3 linked regions of the Homo sapiens genome follow. The protein of the gene in region 3 interacts with the protein of the main gene of each other region in a biochemical or structural test. Each region holds a gene or a part of one and is shown on either strand. Other genes may lie near its edges.

Evidence for each region. Proteins that work in one complex are often made in the same cells at the same time.
Region 1: of the proteins of PRKACA (region 3) and MAPT, one has a biochemical effect on the other in vitro, tested with the Homo sapiens proteins (9 studies listed by BioGRID).
Region 2: of the proteins of PRKACA (region 3) and RELA, one has a biochemical effect on the other in vitro, tested with the Homo sapiens proteins (4 studies listed by BioGRID and IntAct, with this or other methods).

What each region holds. Positions count from the first base shown.
Region 1 is NC_000017.11:45,889,948-45,897,574, reverse strand, and holds the start of MAPT (microtubule-associated protein tau), read right to left. Parts: upstream 3,022-7,627; 5' UTR 2,889-3,021; intron 2,096-2,888; exon of another isoform or gene 2,062-2,095; intron 1,793-2,061; exon of another isoform or gene 1-1,792. UniProt on the Homo sapiens protein: Promotes microtubule assembly and stability, and might be involved in the establishment and maintenance of neuronal polarity.
Region 2 is NC_000011.10:65,653,080-65,659,917, forward strand, and holds the end of RELA (transcription factor p65), read right to left. Parts: intron 6,719-6,838; coding exon 6,587-6,718; intron 5,744-6,586; coding exon 5,639-5,743; intron 5,421-5,638; coding exon 5,208-5,420; intron 2,857-5,207; coding exon 2,776-2,856; intron 2,684-2,775; coding exon 2,609-2,683; intron 1,922-2,608; coding exon 1,299-1,921; 3' UTR 522-1,298; downstream 1-521. UniProt on the Homo sapiens protein: NF-kappa-B is a pleiotropic transcription factor present in almost all cell types and is the endpoint of a series of signal transduction events that are initiated by a vast array of stimuli related to many biological processes such as inflammation, immunity, differentiation, cell growth, tumorigenesis and apoptosis.
Region 3 is NC_000019.10:14,114,749-14,121,695, forward strand, and holds the start of PRKACA (cAMP-dependent protein kinase catalytic subunit alpha), read right to left. Parts: upstream 3,015-6,947; 5' UTR 2,800-3,014; coding exon 2,754-2,799; intron 1-2,753. Other genes in the region: histone chaperone ASF1B, read right to left, coding at 5,711-5,917, 6,784-6,947.

The DNA.
Region 1 (7,627 bases), on a different chromosome or scaffold from region 3:
CAGCACCCCACCGTCATCCGCGCAAAAGCTGCATCCCTCGAGGTCCTGGAGGGAAGCCATTTCCTTAAAGCGCGCGCAGAGCCAGGATAGAGTTTCCTACGAAGGACCGTCCCCCTGAGGTTCCTCCATTAACAGCGCCCCCGGCCTTGCCCACCGCAGCGGCCCCACCAAAGCGCCAACACATTTCAAAATGGAGCGAAATCGCAGAAGCGCGGAGTGCGCTTTGTTCCCAGCATTGGGCTAAATGCGCTCATCCCCACCGGGCTCCCTTTCCTCCAAAGGCAGGAGGTGACATCTCTGCTCGCGAGATGGCAATACGTAGCCGTGGCCGCGGGCTCCCCTTTTCCGGGGCCACCCCGAGACCCTCGCTCCATCTGGAAGGGGAACCCCGCGCCCAGCTCTGTCTGGGGGCGAGGGAGGAGAGACGATGCTTGAATCGATCCCTGAGCCGCTCTGCAACCCCTCGCGGCGGGCCCAGCCATGCGAGGAGCCTCGCAGTACCCAGGCTCCAGCCCTCTACGCCACCGTCAAGGAGGGTCGGCCTGGTCCCGGGCGGGCAGCCAAGCCATTCCCCAGAAATTCAGATCAACCTGGGCGACCCGCGTGGAGGATTCAGCTCCTAGATGCTCTTCCGTCTCAGAAGTGCGCCCCCCGCACCAGTTTTCAGCGATAGAATTAACCAGAAAACCGTGCGTACCAGGTTCATCACAGGAGGGCGAGGCATGGATTCGTTGGCCAGGAGTTCCCCCTGCCGCCCCAGACTCGGTTTTGGGGGCGCGGTGAACTTGGACACGGGTGAAATTTATTTAAGATAAATAATATTAATCAGTACGGACATAATATTAATAAAAATACACCCAGGGCCGCCTATCTGCGTGTCTGCGGCCTCCAGGGGCCAATCAGAAACAGCCTCAGGCGCGGGGGTTCGGGGCTTCCTCCCGTGTCCTCCAGGAGGCCGACTGGGCGCGGCTCCCCCTACCCCAGGGTCCCCAATCTCCGCAGGGAAGGGGTGAGGCCAGCCCCAAGATCCCCTCTCCGGACACCTGTGGTTTCCATGGCAATCCCCCCTCTGCGCCCAGTCCAGTGGGCTCAGAAAGATGGGTGTGGCCGAAGCACCAGTAACCTTATGCCCCTTCCTCACATTCTCCGGCCAGGCGAAGCAACAGGGCGTAAAGCCGGAGAGGCCCCGCCAGGGCTCCCCACCCATCCCCGGATGGGTAGCCAGCGTCCCTCGCTGGGCAACCTGGTGTGGCGTGGCCCTCAGGACACTTGGGGTGTAGGGAGGGGCGAGATCCCTCTGCCGCCGCCCGCAGCGCGCACGGAGACTCGAATCCCATCCCTTCAGAAGCTTCCCGGCGCCGGCAGACTCCGAGACGAGGCTGCGCGCGGTCACGCCCGTTCCATGCGTGCCGGGGGTCGGGGGGTTGACTCGAGTTCATCGAACCCAGCAAGCCTCGAGATCCAACAATGGGCTCGGAAATGAGGAGCGAAAAAGGAAAGAGAGGCGCATGGGCGTAGGGGGGAGGTTGACTGAACACCCTCAGAATAAAAGCCAGAAACCAGGGCTGGGAGCGCAGATCACGTAACCTCTACAGACAAAGCAAAGAGCCCCCGAAGAAGGTGCTGGGCGAACGCCCCCAGTGCTCACGCCCGCAGCAGCAAAACGCCAAGATTTCAGCGCTGATTGTCCCCCTCCCTTTAATGCCAGGCCCCGCCCTGTCCTATGAAGCCCGGCCACCCGGTTTGGCATGGCACCGTAAAGACGTGACACGCCGAAAAAAGATGGCACCTCGCGTTCCGAGGGGGAAAAAAAGGGGGGCTGGGGGCGGGAGTGGGAGGAGGCACAGCCTATCCTCCCCCTTCCTCGCCCACCAGGGTCCACACCCACTGCCGCAGTGAGGGGCGAGCCCTGCGCGCCAGCCCCGCGCCTCCGGCAGGGAGCGCACACGCCGGGCGCCCTGCGCTCCGAGCGCTGAGAAAGAAATCCGCCCCGAGATGCACCTGCAGCCCCGCGCCCATCCGTGCGTGGCTGCGGCTGTGCGTGCCCGCGAACGGGGACCAGCGGCCGCCGAGTCCGTCCACATCGCCAGGCCAGGTGAACCCTGCCTTTGCGAGCGTGCACAGTGGGATCCGCGCACTGTTCTCAGGCACGGCGCTGCTCGCGTCTCTGTGCCAGGCGTGCGCAGGGGGAAGGGCAACTAAAGTGACAGCGCGTGGACCCCTCCCCATCTCCTCGATTTCTCCCAGCCCCCAAATGTCCCCTACGGGTTTCTGAAGGAGGAAAAGGGGAGGGGGCCGGCCCCCGCCTAAAATCAGGGGCAGTGAAGGCCCTGTCGGAATCACTGCTCGGGAGGTGCAGGGAGGGGCGTGCAGGGAGTCATCTTTTCTAGAACCCGATCCACGTCTTTCTTAGAGCTGATGGCGAACAGCGGCAGGGACAGCGGATTTCAGATTCGGTTTCGGGGGTCGTTATCGGACCCCTCCACACACACACACACACACACACACACACACACACACACACACGCCCATTGCGGCAAAAGGCTGCAGTCGAGAGTGAAGGGCAGCCCCCTCCCCCAAGTCACCGCCGCCGCGCCCCACCCTGCCGGCACAGCCTCCACCTGGGGTCTGCGCGAATCTGGTGGTGAAGACCCTCCAGCACACACACACGCGCGCACTCACGCGTGCGTGCATCCCTTGCTCAGGTCCCTTTCCAGGCCGCCCTGGCCCCAGCCCCCGAGCAGGGGAGGCAGGGAGGGGCCCTGCGGTGGCCCCGACCGATGCCCGGCGCACGAAGCCCCAGTCTGCGGAGAGGGAGGGCGAGGGGCGGCGGCGCAGGGGTGCACAGAGGCGGACGGCGAGGCAGATTTCGGAGCCGCGGCGCTTACCTGATAGTCGACAGAGGCGAGGACGGGAGAGGACAGCGGAGGAGGAGAAGGTGGCTGTGGTGGCGGCGGCAGAAGGTGGGCGGTGGCAGCGGCGCTGCTGTTGGTGCCGGAGCTGGTGGGTGGCGGTGACTGCGAGGGCGCGCGCCGGCGAAGAGGGCGCGTTCCTGAGGCCGGCGGGCGGCGCAGGCGCGAGCAGCGGGAACGCGAGCCTCCCCAGGGGAGGGGGCGGGCAGCGCGGCCTCCGCGGGAGCCTTCTCCTCCGGCCACTAGTGGGCGCGCGCGAGCGCCCTGCCGCTCGGCCGTCCGGCGTCTCCCGGCTCGTTCCTCTCGGCGCTGCCCTTTCGCGGTCCCCCTCCCGCTACGCCTCAGGCCGCGGCGCTGACCGCAGCGCGCACGCGCGTTCCGTGGCGCACGCGCTTTCTCCACCTCCTGTAGTTGGAGTCTTTGTGTCGTTGCGGGGGTGGGTGTCCTCCTTCGGGCCATGCGGGGTCGGGGCAAGGCCAGTGGCTCCGCCGCTGGGTCCGCTGCCCTTTACTTTCAGTCAGCCTGGGGCGGTGTCCTCTCCTACAGAAGTCCTGAGCGGCCTTCCACGTGGCCGGCCCTCGAGTCCGTCCGCCCCGACCCTTCGTAGTCCCGAAACCGCCCCCCTGGCTAAGGTCTCTTTCCCCCAGGCTGCTTCCTTTCTCCTTGCTTTTTTCCCACCTTTTTTGTTACTGACCAAGGTGAATCCTTTCCTTAACAAATCGGCTTAAAGCAAGCTAACTCAGTTACAATACAGTAGAACTGTACTTAAAAAAAAAGAAACGTGAATCTAACCGTTACGTCAGAAAAAAAAATCTTAAATTAGACGAATTTCAAACAGTGCTTAACACATCGCAGAGCATTTGCAGTTATTTGTATCACGTCTTTTGAAACACCTTTATGCTGTAAATAGAGCTTGAAGTCTGAATGTTTAAGGGCCAGCTAGAGATTGTCCCCTGGAAGACGCACCTCAGCCTGAAACTGACCAGTGGTCCTCATTCTGCTGGTCGCCCAGGCCCCAGGCTTCGGCCTTAGCTTGGATTTTTCATTTCCCCAACATCAAGTTTAAGCCCAAGCAGTGGGATGATTTCTATGTAGGGGGGTTTAGGGCAGCCATCTCCTCCTAGGGAGATGGGAAGTTGTCTTGAAGCTCCAATTTGCATAGCTCTTATATTCTTTTTAAAAAATCAACATATGTTATAGATTAATAGAAAAAGCAAGTAAAATGCTTTATTCACACAGTTTCTGGAACTGACCTTTTTCTCCTTTTTTTTTTTAAATGCATATTAACTTTATTTTTAAACAGAGGGGCATATACCCAAAGAAGTAGGAGTGAGAACCACCATGGGGGCTTGCTCAAAGCAATCTGCCCTAGCCTTCTGACTACAGAATGTCTCATGAGCCAATGGCCTGGAGATGGAGCTGCCCCTTGATGGTGTACACCTTAGAAAAGTCAGTGGAATTGACCTTTTTTTGGAGACAAGGTCTTGCTCAGGCTGGAGTGCAGTGGCACAATCGTAGCTCACGGCAAGCTTGAACTCCTGGGGCTCAAGCAATCTTCCCACCTCAGCCTTCTGAGTTGCTGGGACTACAGGTGGGCACCACCACACCTGGCTAACTTTTTTTTTTTTTTTTTTTTAGAGAGGAGGTCTTGCAGTGTTGCCCAGGCTGCTTTCTAACTCCCACCTCAGCCTCCCAAAGCGTTGGGATTACAGGCATGAGCCACTGCACTCAGCCTGGAATTGACTTTTTGTTGTTGTTGTTCTAACTGCCACCATCCTAGTTCAAGACCTCTATCTTGGTTCTGGACATGTAGGGACCTTAGTGATCTCCTTGCTCTCCAGTTTCTCCCTATATCAGCCCACCCTGCAACCCCTAGTTAGATCAGTATTCAGAAGTGATCATTTTATTTATTTATTTTTGGTTTTTTGTGTGTGTTTGTTTTGTTTTTTTGAGATGGAGTCTCGCTCTGTTGCCCAGGCTGGAGTGCAGTGGCACGATCTCGGCTCACTGCAACCTGTTTCCCGGGTTCAAGCGATTTTCCTGTCTCAGCCTCCCAGCTACTGGGATTACAGGCATATGCCACCACTCCCGGCTAATTTTTGTATTTTTAGTAGGACGGGATTTCACCATGTTGGCCAGGCTGGTCTCGATCTCCTGACCTCAGGTGACCCAAGCTCCTCAGCCTCCCAAAGTGCTGGGATTACAGGTGTGAGCCACCACACCTGGCCCAGATCATTTTAATTATGTCACTCTCTTGCTCAAAAATATGTAAAAGCTTCTAACTGCCTCCTAAATTAAGTTCAACCCCTTAGTTTAGCTTTCAAGTGTCCCCCCAATGCCCCAACCCCCCATCATCTGAGCCCTTGTCCTCCCATTTTCTTTCCCACCTACTCTGTAGCCAGCTGAAGTGGCTTGACTAGAACTCTTTTTCCACCTCTGTAATTCTGAGGTTTTCCTTTGCCTACAAAGGTCCTTGTTCTTTCTTCACCCACCAGTAGTCTACCTAACCTTCAAACTCTAGCTCAAATTTTACCAAAGCCTTCCCTAATCACCCCAACTGGAAGGGACATTTCCAGTCTCTAGAAGGAGTTCAGCAAAATTACTCTTCTTCTTTCTGAAAGTGGGAAGGGGGTGCAGTCAATATCCGTCTTGCAGCATTGAAATGTGGTTATTGTCCCCAATAGTGTCCCCTTTTTTTGGTGTGGGGATTATACATACTTGTCCATTACCATTTACATGATGTAGACATTCCAAATAGGCGCTTCAAGAGCATTGCAAGGTTCTACCACTTTTACTCTTCCTTTCCGCCACCAGAATGGCGTGGCTCCAGAGAGCTGTTCCTTCAGCTTAGATCTCAGGAAGGAAAAACTCGAGGAAGTACATGTCACATGAGCAAGAAATAAACATTTGGGGCTGGGCGCAGTGGCTCATGCCTGTAATCCCAGCACTTTGGGAGGCTGAGGTGGGTGGATCGCTTGAGGTCAGGAGTTCAAGGCCAGCCTGAGCAACATGGTGAAATCCCATCTCTACTAAAATCACAAAAATTAGCCAGATGTGGTGGCGCGTGCCTGTGTTCCCAGCTACTCGAGAGACTGAGGCAGGAGAATCGCTTGAACCCAGGAGGCAGAGGCTGCAGTGAGCCGAGATTGCACCATTGCACTCCAGCCTGTTACAGAGCAAGACTTGGTGTCAAAAAAAAAAAAGAAATAAGCATTTGTTGTGCAAGCCACCGAGATTTGAGGAGTTGTTACCACAGCGTCCTGTATCCTGATTGATACAGGAATTAAATGAGGTGTGTGTGTGTGTGTGTATAAAGTTTCTTACACAACATCTGACAAATAGTCATTAAACTATCATACTATTATAAATACTATACTATTATACTATTATAAATACTAGTTATTTCATTATCATCTTTGTAATAATGCTTTTGCTACACATTATTTTATTTCTATACGTAAAATAAACTGTAGCAGTCAAATCAACACTCGTCTACATTCAAATTTCACATTTTTCCCCCTCTAAGATAACAGTATAATTGAGAACTGACAGGGACCTAATGACAGTATGGTCCCCTCACACTGAATGGTCACATTTGCCTAAATTGAAATAACGTATGCTAGAAACAATCTTAAGCAGATCTGTCATTTTAACTATATGTGATGTAGAGTTGAATGTTCATTCCAGATAATTTAGTCAATGTAGGTAACTAATGGCTCACACTAATTCAGGCCAAGAAAATGCATTCCCTCTCTTTCTTCCTGTCCCTTTCTCTTGCTGAAAGAGAAATCTCATGGCCGCATATGTTATACAATCATGCCCACTTATGTAGGATCACAGAAGGCAGAATAGCAGAGAAGAAAGAAAACTGGAGAGTTGGGTCCTGATCCTAGCCATCTTGTATGACCTTAGACAAATTCATTACCTTCTCTGGGTTTGCAATTCCTTTATTTAATGGTGTTCCAGATGCGGTTAGGACTGAGATCAATGTATCTATAGAATTTGGAGGCTCTGCCACTAAATCTATTCACAAAGCAAGCTAAACTGTTGTAATAAATAGACCCCAAAACACAATGGTTCAAACCAACTCTTCGAGCAGTCTTGGGTGAGTGATCCAGGTTGGTAGCCAGCCTTCTCCGTGGAAGGTTTGGGACTCAAGCTCCTTCCATTTGCAGCCTACACCACCCCTGAGGGACTTGTTGTTTGCTTGCTTGAGGCAGGGTCATCATTTAGAGTCTCCAGTTGGGAGGAAGAGAAGGAGCTTATGGAGGAAACACACTGGCTGTCTTAGAGGCTGGAAGTGGCATCTGATCATGTTCCACTGTTAGAACTTAGTCACATGGCCATCCCTAAGCGCAAGGTATACCAATGTATGTAGGAGAGTTGTGGGCCCAGGAAGAAGAGGAGAAAGGATTTGGGTGGAACCTAGGCTGTGCCATATATACTTTTTATGTGGGGGTGGGGGGATGTGGTAAAAAGAACCTGGGAAAAGAACCTGAACTTGTCTATCATGAGATTCAGACATATGTGAATAGGCTATGATGTGGGAGGTGGGGAGAGAGGTAGAGAACTAGCAGAGAAGGAGAAAAACCAGATTTTCAATTAAATGCATGAGAGAGAAGTCATCATTGGATACTTCTGAATCAGAGAGTATTTAACCTTTTTTATATCGTGGCACCCTATGGCAATATGATAAAAGCCCTGTCTCAGAAGAA
Region 2 (6,838 bases), on a different chromosome or scaffold from region 3:
GCGGCTGGGCCTTTGTTTTGGCTTCCTGAGGCTGTGGATTGAAGATTTCACCGTTCCTCCCAGAACAGAGTATCAAAGCATCGGTGGGCCGGGTAGATCTTTACCTGGCACCACACATTCCCCAAGAGAAGCACACACTCCCTGGGCCACCCAAGGAATTTGGCCCCATCACATCTTTCGAACATCGTTTCTCTTACCTCTGACGCTGGCTAGTCCCTCTTTGACATCCACTCTCAGCTGATCTAAGACCTGGAGCTAATGGGGCCTCTTGGAAGACTCCTGAAACTGCTCCATCCCCACAGCCAGCGGGCTCTACTAGGCTCTCAGTGTGCTAGGACTCTTGCCTTAGCTGCCCGTTTTCATCCACTGGACGGTAACTCGGGGTTTCCAAGGGCATTCTCAGACTGCAAGCTCTCAGAGGACAGTGCACGCATTCACCCAGCTCTCTACCACCAATGTCTGGCCTGATGTGACTAGCAAAATGTGTGCTCAGTGTTTGCTGAAAAAAAGCGGATCTCTAGCCAGCTTGGCAACAGATTTATTAGTTCAGAGTAGAAAGAGCAAGAGTCCAAGTGCTTTGATTGTTCAGTAAAAACTATGCCTCCTGACTGGAGAGCTGCCAGCCTGCTCTCCCCCACTCTTAACAACTTACCCTACTATTAAGGCACTTGAGAAGAGGGAGAGCAAGGAAGTCCCAGACCAAACCCCTTCTGGATCCTGGAGAGAGCCAGTGCTGTTGCACTGGTTTCCTTCAGCCATGGTTGAGCAAGGAAAGAGCCGGCAGAGACCTCTGTAGGGCAGGAAGGCCAGCCCCTCAAACGCTGGTGTTAGGCACAGGGACAATGCCAGTGCCATACAGGGGCTGGTATCTGGGGCGTTATTTTGATTAAGCTGTAATGAATCCATGATGGAAGACACTTGATAAGGCTTTGTGGGCTCAAAGGCCTTACCTCCAGCCTGCTTCTGTCTCTAGGAGAGTACCAGAAGCTGGAGGATGGGGATGGGGGACCCCAGAGTTCCCTACAGAGAAGGGAGCTGACCATCAGGACAGGGGAAAAGTTTGAGTTTCCCCAGCTCCCCCCTTTCCAGAGAAGTTAATGCTTCTGCTTAAGCACCTCCAAAAAGAGAGAGAGATACAGATACTGACAATAAAAGAATAAAATATGGCTCCCCCCTCCAAGGAAGACATCCACAAAGTTGGGGGCAGTTGGAACACACCCCACCAGAATCCGTAAGTGCTTTTGGAGGGCTTCAATCCCCTGCAACCCAGTGCTCTGGGGAGGGCAGGCGTCACCCCCTTAGGAGCTGATCTGACTCAGCAGGGCTGAGAAGTCCATGTCCGCAATGGAGGAGAAGTCTTCATCTCCTGAAAGGAGGCCATTGGGGAGCCCCGGGGCCCCCAGTGGAGCAGGAGCTGGGTCGGGGGGCCTCTGGGCCCCTGTCACTAGGCGAGTTATAGCCTCAGGGTACTCCATCAGCATGGGCTCAGTTGTGTGGGGGGCCACAGGTATGCCCTGGTTCAGCAGCTGCTGAAACTCGGAGTTGTCGACGGATGCCAGGTCTGTGAACACAGCTGGGTCTGTGCTGTTGCCAAGCAAGGCCCCCAGGTCTTCATCATCAAACTGCAGCTGCAGCAGGGCCTCTGACAGCGTTCCTTCCCCAGCCTGGGTGGGCTTGGGGGCAGGTGGGGCCACAGCCTGAGGAGGGCCTGGGGCTAGGACTGGGACAGGGGCTGGGGCCTGGGCCAGAGCTGATACCATGGCTGGAGCAGGGGCAGGGGCTGGAGCCTGGGGCAGGACTTGGGGAGGGGCCGGGGCCAAGGCCGAGGCCTGGCTGATCTGCCCAGAAGGAAACACCATGGTGGGAAACTCATCATAGTTGATGGTGCTCAGGGATGACGTAAAGGGATAGGGCTGGGGTGCTGGAGGAGAGAGACAGAGAGGCAGGGGTCAGAGAAAGCCCTAGAGATCCACCCCGTCCTCTGTACCCCAGCCCCTCTTCATGGTGCTCAGGCTCAATCCCTCTCTAGGGAGTCACTGCCAACACCCTATCTCCTTCCTCTTACCCCATCTGACCCAGCCTGTAGGGTCCAGTTCTAGCCACACCTCCACCTTGGAGTCCTCCCTGACTACTCAAGCCCACGAAACTCTTCCAGCCTTTTAGAGGAAGGGACACTTGGAGAGATAAGCTGGACTCCTCAGTTTACAGCTGAAAAACTAAGTCCTGAGAGGCAATGAGCCCATGGAGCACCAAGTGAGCAGCGGCCTGAAGTGCAGAGCTTGTCAGTTTTTGAGCCTCGCACAGGCACACACATCTTGCTAATTTAGAGGTGATTTTTGTTCCCCCAATTCAAGTGAGAGATGAGAGCAGAGATTCTGCATTTTTAACTTCTGATTCCCAAGATACCCAATATAGAATTTAAGTGGCACGGTGGTTCCCAGGCTTCAGTGTGCATTAGCATCCCAGGAAGTCGCTGGTTCCTGCGCCATCCTTTCAAAGCCTCTGATTCAGTAGGTCTGTAATGGGGCCCAGGAGTCTTCATCTCCACTGCTCCTCAGCTGAACAGAGCTGAACCTGTCGTTCCAGTGGGACAAAAGGAAATCCTTACCTGGCTTGGGGACAGAAGCTGAGCTGCGGGAAGGCACAGCAATGCGTCGAGGTGGAGGCCGGGGGTCGGTGGGTCCTGTAGGGCAAGGGCTAGGTCAGTTCTCAGCCCCAGGGTGTCCCCTCCCTGCCCGCTGCCTTCCTCTCTGGCTTTCCCAGTCCCCATCTCACCGCTGAAAGGACTCTTCTTCATGATGCTCTTGAAGGTCTCATATGTCCTTTTACGTTTCTCCTCAATCCGGTGACGATCGTCTGGGAAAGTAAGGGGGAGAAGTGGGACTTGCTCTCCTCAGGTGGGTCCCCGACGCTCTCAAAGGTCCCTCAGGAGGAAGGGGAGGAGCCAGGCTTTCCCAAGACCCATTCTCCCAACCTTCTCTGCCAATGAGAAGGGATGTGTGACACTCAGCAGTTCTGAGAATCCCACAGCTTTTGGAGGCCTCTGTTGGCTGAATCTGCCCCTCTAAGACCACATGGTGAGGCCGAGTACAGGGGCCATGCTCTGGGCAAAGAGGAGACCTGGGGGGCCCCAGCCTCCAGCTCACACCTTCCTGCACTGCTCACATCCTGGCTCATTGTCAGCCTCCACCCAGGCCTGGCGAGAATTTCTTGGCACTCTGGGGCAGCTGAGGCACAACTGCCTTAAGACTTCAGCAGAGACTCTTATTCTTATCTCTAATGGTTTCATATTTTAGTCAGAGCTTTCAGAACTGTCTTTCTAATTACAGTGGTATTTCAGTAGCTCCAAAGCACTTCAATTCCATCAATTCAAAGACAACCTCATCATCCCTCAAAAACTAGGTTCTTTCTCCTGCATTCCCTGACCATCCGCCATCTGCCCTGTCACCAAAGCTAGAAACCTTGGAATGATTATCTTCTTTTCTCTCACTCCCCGCCAGTAACTTGACATATATTTATCAAGCACCTACTATGTGCCAGCCTCCCTTCTAGACACTGGGGATGTGGCCGTGAGTATGCACACAAGGTGTCTGCTCCCAAAAAGTTGGCATCCTAGTGAAAAAGTGAGAGGGACACAATCATATATACAAACCAGAAAATCTCGGCCAGGCGTGGTGGCTCACGCCTGTAATCCCAGCACTTTGGGAGGTCGAGGCGGGTGGATCACGAGGTCAAGAGATCGAGACCACCCTGGCCAACATGGTGAAAACCCCGTCTCTACTAAAAATACAAAAAATTAGCCGGATGTGGTGGCGGGCGCCTGTAGTCCCAGCTACTCGGGAGGCTGAGGCAGGGAGAATCACTTGAACCCGGGAGGTGGAGGTTGCAGTGAGCCGAGATTGCACCACTGCACTCCAGCCTGGGCGACAAGAGTGAGACTCTGTCTCAAACAAACAAACAAAACCAAACCAGAAAATCTCAAGTGACGGTGGTCCAGGGACGATATGGTGATGTAACAATACTGGAAGTGAGGTCAGGACAGTCTAAATGTAGAGGGAAGGGCTAATTTAGAGGTCAGGGAAGGACTGGCATGAGCCACTTGCATTAAAACCTTGGGCATTCCAAGCAGAGGCAACAGCTAGACACAGGTCCTGAGGTGAGACTGAGCTTGGTCTGTAAGACGCAAAACGGCTGCAGGGCTGAAGGGTAACTGAGGACAGTGGTGGAGATGTGATCTTGCTCTGCTATTCCTTCTGTAAGGTTTGTGCCGCATCTTCTCTTCCTGGACTACAGCAACATTTCCAGAATGGCCTCCCTGCTTTGAGTCTGTCTGTCTCTGATCTTCTACACGTGGCCTCCTGAGTCAACTTCCAAATCTGCTCCTGTCACCTCTCTGCTTAGAGGCCTTCAGCTTAACCAGGCCCTCCAATCTCTGAGCCTGCTCACTGCCCAACATCAGCTCAAACCACGAAGGTGGCCCTGAATAGGCCGTGCAGTTGCCAACACCCCTTCCCTTCCAGGTGCTGGGCCACCTGCCTGGAGAACACACTTCTGTGTCTTTCTCCAGCTTCAATGCCACCTTCTCCATGCAGCTGTCTCCAGCTCCCCGGAGGCCACTGTGCCCCCGTGCTTCTCTGCGCACACCTCCATTTCACATGTCATTCCGTGACTTAAGGATCTGTTTTGCACATTTGTCTTCCTCAAGTGACTGAGACTCTGAAGGGCAGGGAGCATGTCTTACTCATTTTTTGTATTCACAATACCTGGCACAGGCCCTGGTACCAAGTGGACACTCAAACCTCGACCAAAATGTGGCTGGGCTGTATGGTAGTGACAAGACAACCAGTGTGGCAAAAGGATCCTGAAGCCAGATGGCCTGGGTTCCAACGCTGACTCTGCTAGACTCTGCTACTTACTAGCCACGTGAACCCAGGCAAGTTGGACACTATCTCCTACTTCAAAAGGGTCATGAGATTAAAATCAGGTAATCCAGTGAAGTGCCTGGAATAGGGGCAGATGTGTAGTACTAGCTCAATGTCTGAGGTATCATTATTATTAAATGAGGCAAGAAATGGATTCCAGTTTCTTGGATCCCAAGCTCTGACTCCAGCTTCTGGCCCTCAACCACAGCCCCAGACATGCAGTCTTGGCCTCTCTCTCACGGCACAGAGCCCAGCTGCCCTGATGCTGCCACCCCAGCTGTGTACCTGTATCTGGCAGGTACTGGAATTCCATGGGCTCACTGAGCTCCCGGTCGGAAGGCCGCCGCAGCTGCATGGAGACACGCACAGGAGCCTGCAGGCTGGGGTCTGCGTAGGGAGGGGTCCGGAACACAATGGCCACTTGTCGGTGCACATCAGCTTGCGAAAAGGAGCCTCGGGCCTCCCAGCCTGGTCCCGTGAAATACACCTCAATGTCCTCTGCAGGAGATGCGGTGGCAGTGTGGGTCAGTGTGTCTAACCCTCCATGGTCTCCCCCTCAACTTCTGATGCTTGTCTTCTGATACATCACCCTTCGGCCCACCTGAGGCCCCCGAGGCACAGGAGGAAGTATCCAAAGCCAGTTACCTGACACTCCACTTCTCTGCTCAGCTTCACCCCTTGCTCCCAAGAGCCCACCCCTGCCTCCTGATGTATACCTTTCTGCACCTTGTCACACAGTAGGAAGATCTCATCCCCACCGAGGCAGCTGCCAGAGTTTCGGTTCACTCGGCAGATCTTGAGCTCGGCAGTGTTGGGGGCACCTGAGGCAGTGAAAACAAGGGAGGATGACCTGAGCCACGAGAGGTCCCCAGGGTGGCCTGCAGGAGATGCAACTTCCCTGCCCAGCCCAGAGTCAAGGTTGCCCAGAGCTTGCCACCTACACCTTTGTAGCCAAAGTCAGACCTTCTTATTAGCTCCTCACCCCAACCGATTCAACAAGTATTTGCCTACTGTGCACTCAACACTGATCTAAGCAAGAATACGACCACACACAAAACCCAAACCTCTCTGCTCTCCCGGAGCTTATAGTCCAGTGGGTGCCAATCTGATCACACTCTTTCTCCACCTGACCAAAGCAATCTTTAAGGCCAGTCCATACCCACCTTGGCAATGAGCCCTTCCCTCCTGACCCCCAGTTTATCCTGGTTTCCCATCCTTGGGGCTCCAGATTCGTTTTATTTCCATTCATCCTGCTGGTTACTTAACTAAAGACTGCAGCTGATCAGTCAGCCCAATTCATCTGTGGGCTTCCATCACTGAATCATCATTCTCGAACACTATCTTGTTCCTGGGAGTTCATTTCCTAGAGTCATTATCGCAGTTGTGGGCACACCACCTTCTCATCACACAATACTGAAAATGCCCATCTCCCATCAGACTCTCTGCTAGACTTCCTGCCAGGCCAGAGCTACACCTCAAGGACAGCTCTGGGTCTTCTTTGCCCTCTCTCCCCAGCCAACAAAGAGCTGGGCAGAGAAGAGTAGACAAATACGCAAGATGATTGAATGAAGCCAGAGCGCCTCTTGCAGGCCACACTCACCCCAACCCCCTTCCTCCTATTCAGGCCCACCCTCTCCCCTTCCTGCGTCTCCCTCGCTACTCACGATTGTCAAAGATGGGATGAGAAAGGACAGGCGGCAGGCGGAGGGGCCTGCCTGATGGGTCCCGCACTGTCACCTGGAAGCAGAGCCGCACAGCATTCAGGTCGTAGTCCCCACGCTGCTCTTCTATAGGAACTGCCAAGAAAACAGGCGATCAGGAGAGCAGGGGAAGTGGGGATATAGGTGCTATCAGTGGGGGCAGGGAGCTCTGCGCTGGGAGGGCCGCTGGTGCGTGTGTGAAACACAAGTCCTAGA
Region 3 (6,947 bases):
TCCCAATGGCTTTGCCATCTTTGGGTGTAGATTCCCCCAACTCCACTCCAGGGTTCATTCTGGATCCCTGGCCTCTTGGGAGGAGGCGGACTCTGTCCTGCCCTGGCACAGAGATGGTACCACAGGGGACTGCAGGATGCTTAACTGGTGCCTCCCAAGGCCTGGGCATTTTCCTGACCCCAGTCGGGCCGGCGTCTGGCAGATGAAATCCAGGTGCCCCCTGCAGGCTGGCCTGGCTACTGCCCCTGCCCCTGCCCCACCCTTCTAAGAGGGCAAATTTTGTCTAACTCCATCCTCTCAGAATCAGAGCGCCTCAAAGCAAAGAGGGACTTCCTTCCTCATCTTATTTCCTTCTCTGGGAGCCTCTGGGAGGAAGTACAGCTTCGGGCGTTTCTCAACGTGTGACATAGTCCCATTGGCAGAACATGACATGATTTTCGGGATGTTTCATTTATCTAGTTACACTGTATTTAATGCGTATCAGAGAAAATATAACTGGCATGGCAATCCCATGATTTCATTTATATTATTGTTTAGAATGAGCTCCAAGTTTACATCTGAACACAAGTGAGTAAAACTTTTATTATTTTAAATTAAGAAAATATGATAGAGTAAAAATCTGGGAGGCTGCTGAAAAATGTCAAAGTCGGGGAATTCTGGGGTCCAAGAAGTTTGCTGGTAGATGGATCTGGATGTGAATCCTGCCTCTGTGACATCATCTATGTCATGGATGTCATTTCTACCAGAGGGCTCCTTTGGAAAATTTGGATAACAGCCCGTTATGAAAGTCACCAGAGTAGGTATCTCTATCCGCCTGGCCATTTAGCCTGTGGCACAGCCTAGATGCCCAATAAATAGTAGCTCTATTTTACCATGATCATTCATTCCTGGGTGTCTGACCTGTGCTCTGAGAGAATCAGTGGTTCCTTCCAGAGCCTCTGATCTTTTTCTTGGGATCCTTTTTCTTGTGTGGCTTTCCACCCCCCACCACATGTGTCTGATAGCCTTGAAGGTTTTCCAGGACTGTCATCTCCCCAACTTTCAACTGAGCTACCGCAATATATAGCTGCCTGCCTCTACCTTCCACCTCCCAGCTGGCCTCACCTGCTGGGGGCCTGACTCCTCCCCCCCCGGCCAAGTCCCCTCCAAGCTCATGCCCAGACCTTTTTTGGACACTACCCACCTGCTCCTCTGTCATCAGGCACTCAGCTACAGGCATTTCCCTCCCCAGCCCCCACCCATTGGTGACATGTCAGGCCTCTTCATGATCGCTCTGTGACTCTGAGTTCTGCTATTTGAATCCGTATGGGAATAAAGTTCCCTGGCTTTCATACCTTTCTGGGAGGGGGCATTCAGGAAACTCAGATGCTGGGGTTTGAGACCAAAAACTGGCCTTCCTTTTCGACCAATAGTTCCGACTATTTCTGGGTAAGTGGACAGGGGATCCCAGCTGCCTTCCAGCTTTCAGACTGGAGTGACAACAATTTAAGAGCTGTAAAAATTGGGAATGGGGTTCAAGACCATTTCTGATGGTATTTCCAGATAGAGAATCTCTTTCTCTGGCTGGCTGGAAAAGACCAACCTAATGTGTGGGCAAGTGGGTGAAACAGGTCTCTCTCTGGCTGAGCCCTGGGAATGATCAGAATCACTAGACGTCAAAGCAAATCACTAGACGTCACCCATTACTCTCTTTGACTGCCTCCTCCTCCCCAGTGCTCTTTCTGACCATCTCAGTTAGAACCGAATGAACCTCGCTAAACCCAGACACTTTTCATCCCAAGCCAGGAGTGGTGGAAGAAGCCCCAGGGACTGGGTGAATGACGGAGCCTCAGTTGTGAAACGACCATTTATTGAGGGGCCCTCCATGGAGCCTAGAGCTCACTGCAAGACAGGAAATGAGAGGGGGCTCTGCCACCACCCCCTTACCCCAACGCAGGAAAGAGGATGCAATGAATCCCAACAAGACCAGCTCAAACTTGGCTTTGGAAGCACTGAAGCAATTCTCTACGTTCATAAACAGTCTGCTACCCCAGCCAGGGACAGACGCTTGCTTGGAGGACGGAGCACAAGCAGAGCAGCAGAATGACAGAGTGACAGGATGAGAGAGGCAGAGGGACCCAGAAAGATCCTGTCCCCCATGCCAAGTGACACAGAAGAAAAAAATAATGCTGGAGGTGGCTCTGGGAAATGTTCAGGGGGCAGGATGGGTTTGGAAGGGGGGGCTGTGCTAAGGTGAAGAGGGAAAGGGCAGGAGAAAGATGGCGGGGGCTGGAGGGGGGAGGGGTGTGGTCAGCAAGTGGCCAAGGTCCCTGCGCGGTGGAGGCAGACAGACCTCATCGCATTCCCAAACTGGTAGAAACCTGGGTCGGGGTCAGGCAGAGGATCCCATAGGTGAGAGAGGTGAGTGAGGAAGTGGGGGGATTAGAATCTGGGAAGAGGGGCCAGGAAAGGAGGGGGTAGGCTGGTGACAGGGGCCCATGTGGGGCCCCAGCGGTCATACGTGCCATGGTTGGCAGTGACAGCTGGGGGGGAGCACGGTCTTTGCAGCATGGGGCGGCCCTAGGGGAAGGGGACCCCTACAGGGGGTACTCTGCGGGCCCGCGGGCCCCAGCCTTGGACAGGCCGGGGCAAGGGGCGCTGGGGGGTAGGCAGAGAGGATGAGGGGCCCCGTAGGGGGAGGGGCCAGGCGATGATGGACAAGGCCAGGGCTGGCAGCGCAGGGCCAAGATCGGGGTCACAGCCCGGGCACTCACCGCTCTCCTGCTCGCTGCCCTTCTTGGCGGCGGCGGCGTTGCCCATCGCGGCGGCGGCGGCCGGGGCCGGTCCCGGAGCTGCGGCGCGGCGGGTGCTGGCTGCGGCCGGCGGCCCCGGAGCGCGCTGGGCGGCGGCGGCGGCGGCCCTCGGGCTGGCTGCGCTAGCTGCGGCGCCGCGACCCCCGCCCAGCCCCTGCTTCCCGCGTCTCTCCGCGCCCGCCCGCCCGGGAACCTCAGCCCAAGATCTCTGCCGCTGTCTGTGACGCCCCCGCAGCCCGCCGCTCATTGGCCTAGGCCGCCCTGACTGACGGCTCAGCGCCGCCTCCCATTGGCCCTCCCGCGACCTTCCCGCGCCACTATAGGCTCTCAGCCTCGGGACACGCACCGCGGACTCTCGGCCATTCACTCGCTCGCGAGGCCGCAGCTGGGCGGGCAGACGCGTCCGATTGGCCGAGACGCTGGACTGGGCCCGGGGTCCGCCCTGCGAGGCCGCCGATTGGCGGAGGTGCCGGGTCCGCCAAGCCCCCCAGCAGAACGCTCAGTGTCAATCCGGGGGTGAGAGGGCGGGGCGGAGACGCAGTCTGCGGGCCCGGGCCGGCGGGGCGGGGCGGCGGAGGCTGGCTGGCGGCCGCGCAGCGCTCCGAGGCTCAGGAGGCGGCCCCGGCGGGCGCCCGGCCGGCCCCGCGCGCGCCGCAGTCCCCCGCCCCCGCTCAGTGCGGCAGCGGCTGTCGGCCAGCCGGAGTTGGCGCCGCGGCCTGCCCGGCGCAGCCGCTGTCCACCTGCCAGCGGGGGAGGGGCGCGGCCGGCGCGCGGGTCAGAGGTCGCCCGGCCGCCGCCGGCGTCATTCATAAGGCCTGGCGCTGGGCGGCCGAGGCCAGGCCTGCTTGGGGGCCAGGCCGCGGGGCCTCCTGGGTTTTCCCAGCCGCACTCAGGAGGATGCCGGGCCCGGCGCAAGGGGTGGCTGGGAAGGGGCGCTCAGTGTCCACCCCTTTGCTGGGCCCTAGCCCTGGGCTCCTGCCAGTAGTAAGAGCTGGCACCCACTTAACGCTCCTTCGCACCACACTCCCATCGCGTAGGTGCTACCATCATCACTCCCATTGCACAGATGAGGAATCTGGGGTACAGCCAGGCAGATTCCCTGCTCCTGTTCCCCGTCTGTATTTCCTGTCTGGGCAATGCGAAGGGAACCTGCCCCTTCCTTCAGGATCCTCTTTCAGTACACACTTAGCAGAGGACAGTCGGGGTTTCCCAACTGCGACACTACTGACGGTGAGGCTGGATCATTTTCTGCTGGGGGGTGTCTTGTGCACCACTGGGTGTTGAGCAACATCCCCCGCCTCTACCCACTGGATGCCAGTAGCCCCTCCTCTATCTTCCTGCTGGCTGTGGCAACCGCTGTCTCCTGACATTGGTGAATGTGCTCTTGCGGGGCCGAACTGCTCCTGATTGAGAAGCACTTAAGAGAGGGTCAGGGGAGGGGAGAAGCCAGGTCACCCCGACTCGGAAGGGCTAGCTGGGCTTAACTACAAGCCGATCTGCTGCTTCGACTTGAATAGCCTCCACCTTCTCCAGCTGCTGTCTGCCCCCATGTTCCCAGATCAACCACAGTTCCAGGGAGGGAGAGTCAGAGCCTTTCTGTGAACTATGGGGAAATGGCTGACCACTCCGCCTCTGGATGGATAGATACATGGTAAGGTTTAGTAAAATTTAATAAAAGCATTGCTGTTTGTGTGTTGGGATCACGATGTTAATTTCCTGTGGGTCAAGGGCAAAGTCTGAAAAATCACTCATTATAATCTATCTGCAGGACAGCTGGTTTAAGTTTTGACAAAGAAAAACCCCTCCTGGAACCTCAGTCTGGAATACAACTGTAGAACCAATTAAGACTGGAGTAGGAAGCTGGAAAGAAGACGTGGGACAGCCAACCCACTGGACAGGGCAAGAGGCCACTTCTGGGGGAGAGTGGACAAAGTTGCTTCAGTCCACCAGAGACAAAAGCACAAACAATCATTCTAAATGAAGTGCTTTTAATTTTCAGACCAAACATTTTTAATATAAAAACATTTTGATAATATACAAACAGCAATCACAACAGCATCCACATGGCAGCAAGGGGACCAGGGCACAGAGAGGGGGAGCGGGCTGGGGAGGGACAGTTTTCAGGGTCCCAGTTGCTTCCCTGGCTTGAAATCACCCTGGTCCTAGCAGAGGACAGGTTAAGGCTGCCAGAGGCAGAGGGTCCCTGACCCTGGCCCGGAGACAGACTGCCCAGGCAGGCCCTCTGATACCATCTTCCAACCATGGCAGCCTCCAGGAAAAGCCAGATCCATTTAGGAGATAACAGGAAGGTGGCTGTGATTGACAGGAAAGGCAACATGGTTCCTCAGCATCCTGCTGATCACACCTCTGGGAGGGGCTGCTGGATTGAAGAGGACCTAAGAATCTTCCTGGGAGCAGGACAGAAATGGGATCTAAGTCTACCTACTAACTAACATTCCCGCCTGTGACACCAGAAAGCTGGAGTGGGTCTGCTCAGATGTACAGGAAGAGAAAGGAATGACAAAGCCTTTGGCTCAGCAGGACTGGAGCCTTGACAGGCACTGACCAAGAAAGCCTCTAGGTGGGCCAGGGAGGTCTGTGGGAAAGCTTTGGATCAATGGTACTCAAGGGTGCACAGTGGCACAGTGGCCTTAGTTAGAATTTATGAAGACGAAAAGAACACAAGTCAGAATTTAGAACTGAAGTACCTGCTTCTTATAGGCCTGTAGAGGAAAAGCGAGATCATCCTTCTGGCCAGGACTAGGGGAGACCCAAGGCCTGTTCTTTCCTAGGGGCTGAGTTTGACAGACCTGGATTGCAGCTGATGGCCCCCAAAGTCCTCTAGATGGGCCCTGCAGGACTCGCTGGGAGGCCTGGTTGCCCCTCCCGGCGTGCTGGGACACTCTGGGTTCCTGCAGTTAGATGCAGTCCATGGAGTTCTCAGGGAGGAGGCCAGGGATGCAGCCAGGGAGCCCCAAGCCCTTGATAGGAGTGCAGTTGAGTGGGAGGCCGCAGCCCAGGGAGGGGTCCTGGGTCTCTATGGCCTCCAGCCTGTCCATGTTGTTGTCCCAGTTGATATGGAAGCGGGTCACCCGGGGGTTCGAGGCCAAGATGTTCCGCTGGAGCTGGGGCAGGAAGAGGAACGTCAACCCTTGTAGGTACGCCCTCTCCTTGGTCCCATAGAGCCAGGACACCCCCAATCACCCATCTCAAGCCCAGCAAGAGCAACCTACATATGGAACTCCAGAAAACACCTGTGGCCAGGACCTTATTTATTTATTTATTTATTTATTTTTTGAGACGGAGTTTTGCTTTTGTTGCCCAGGCTGGAGTGCAATGCTGTGATCTCGTCTCACTGCAACCTCTGCCTTCCGGGTTCAAGCGATTCTCTTGCCTCAGCCTCCTGTGTAGCTGGGACTACAGGTGCAAGGCACCATACCTGGCTCATTTTCGTATTTTTAGTAGAGACGGGCTTTCACCATGTTGGCCAGGCTGGTCTCAAACTCCTGACCTCAGGTGATCCTACAGCCTCGGCCTCCCAAAGTGCTGGGATTACAACGCGTGAGCCACTGTGCCTGGCCCAGGACTTTTTTTTTTTAAGGGACAGTCTCACTCTGTTGGTCAGGCTGGAATGCAGTGGCACGATCTGAGCTCACTGCAGCCTCAAACTCCTGGGCTCAAGCGATCCTCCCACCTCAGCCTCCAGAGTAGAGCACACCACCCATGTCTGGCTCATTTTTTTTTTTTTTTTTTTTTGCGGGGGTTAGGGACAGGGTCTCACTATGTTGCCCAGGCTGGCCTAATCTTAATTCTCTAAGACATGCCTTTGAGAGACAAAGGTCTTTTTCTCCTCTTCTAACACAGTACTGTAAGAACTGAATATTACTTGAAAACCTTAAGAAGTGACCTTGACTCTCAATTTGAATGGCTGAACTCCCCCCAAGTATAAAGAACGGCCTTGTGGGAAGCAGGAAGTGGAAACAGGCCCCACCTGGGAGAAATCTGGCTTCATGGGCGGGTTCTCACGCAGCTCAGGGTTGAGGTACTCGTTGTTGACGTAGTAGCCCACTCGGATGAACTCCTGTCCATGGTAGGTGCAGGTGATGAGGACCACAGTCACACCCACGGCATCAGTCTCTGGGATGAGGGATGGGT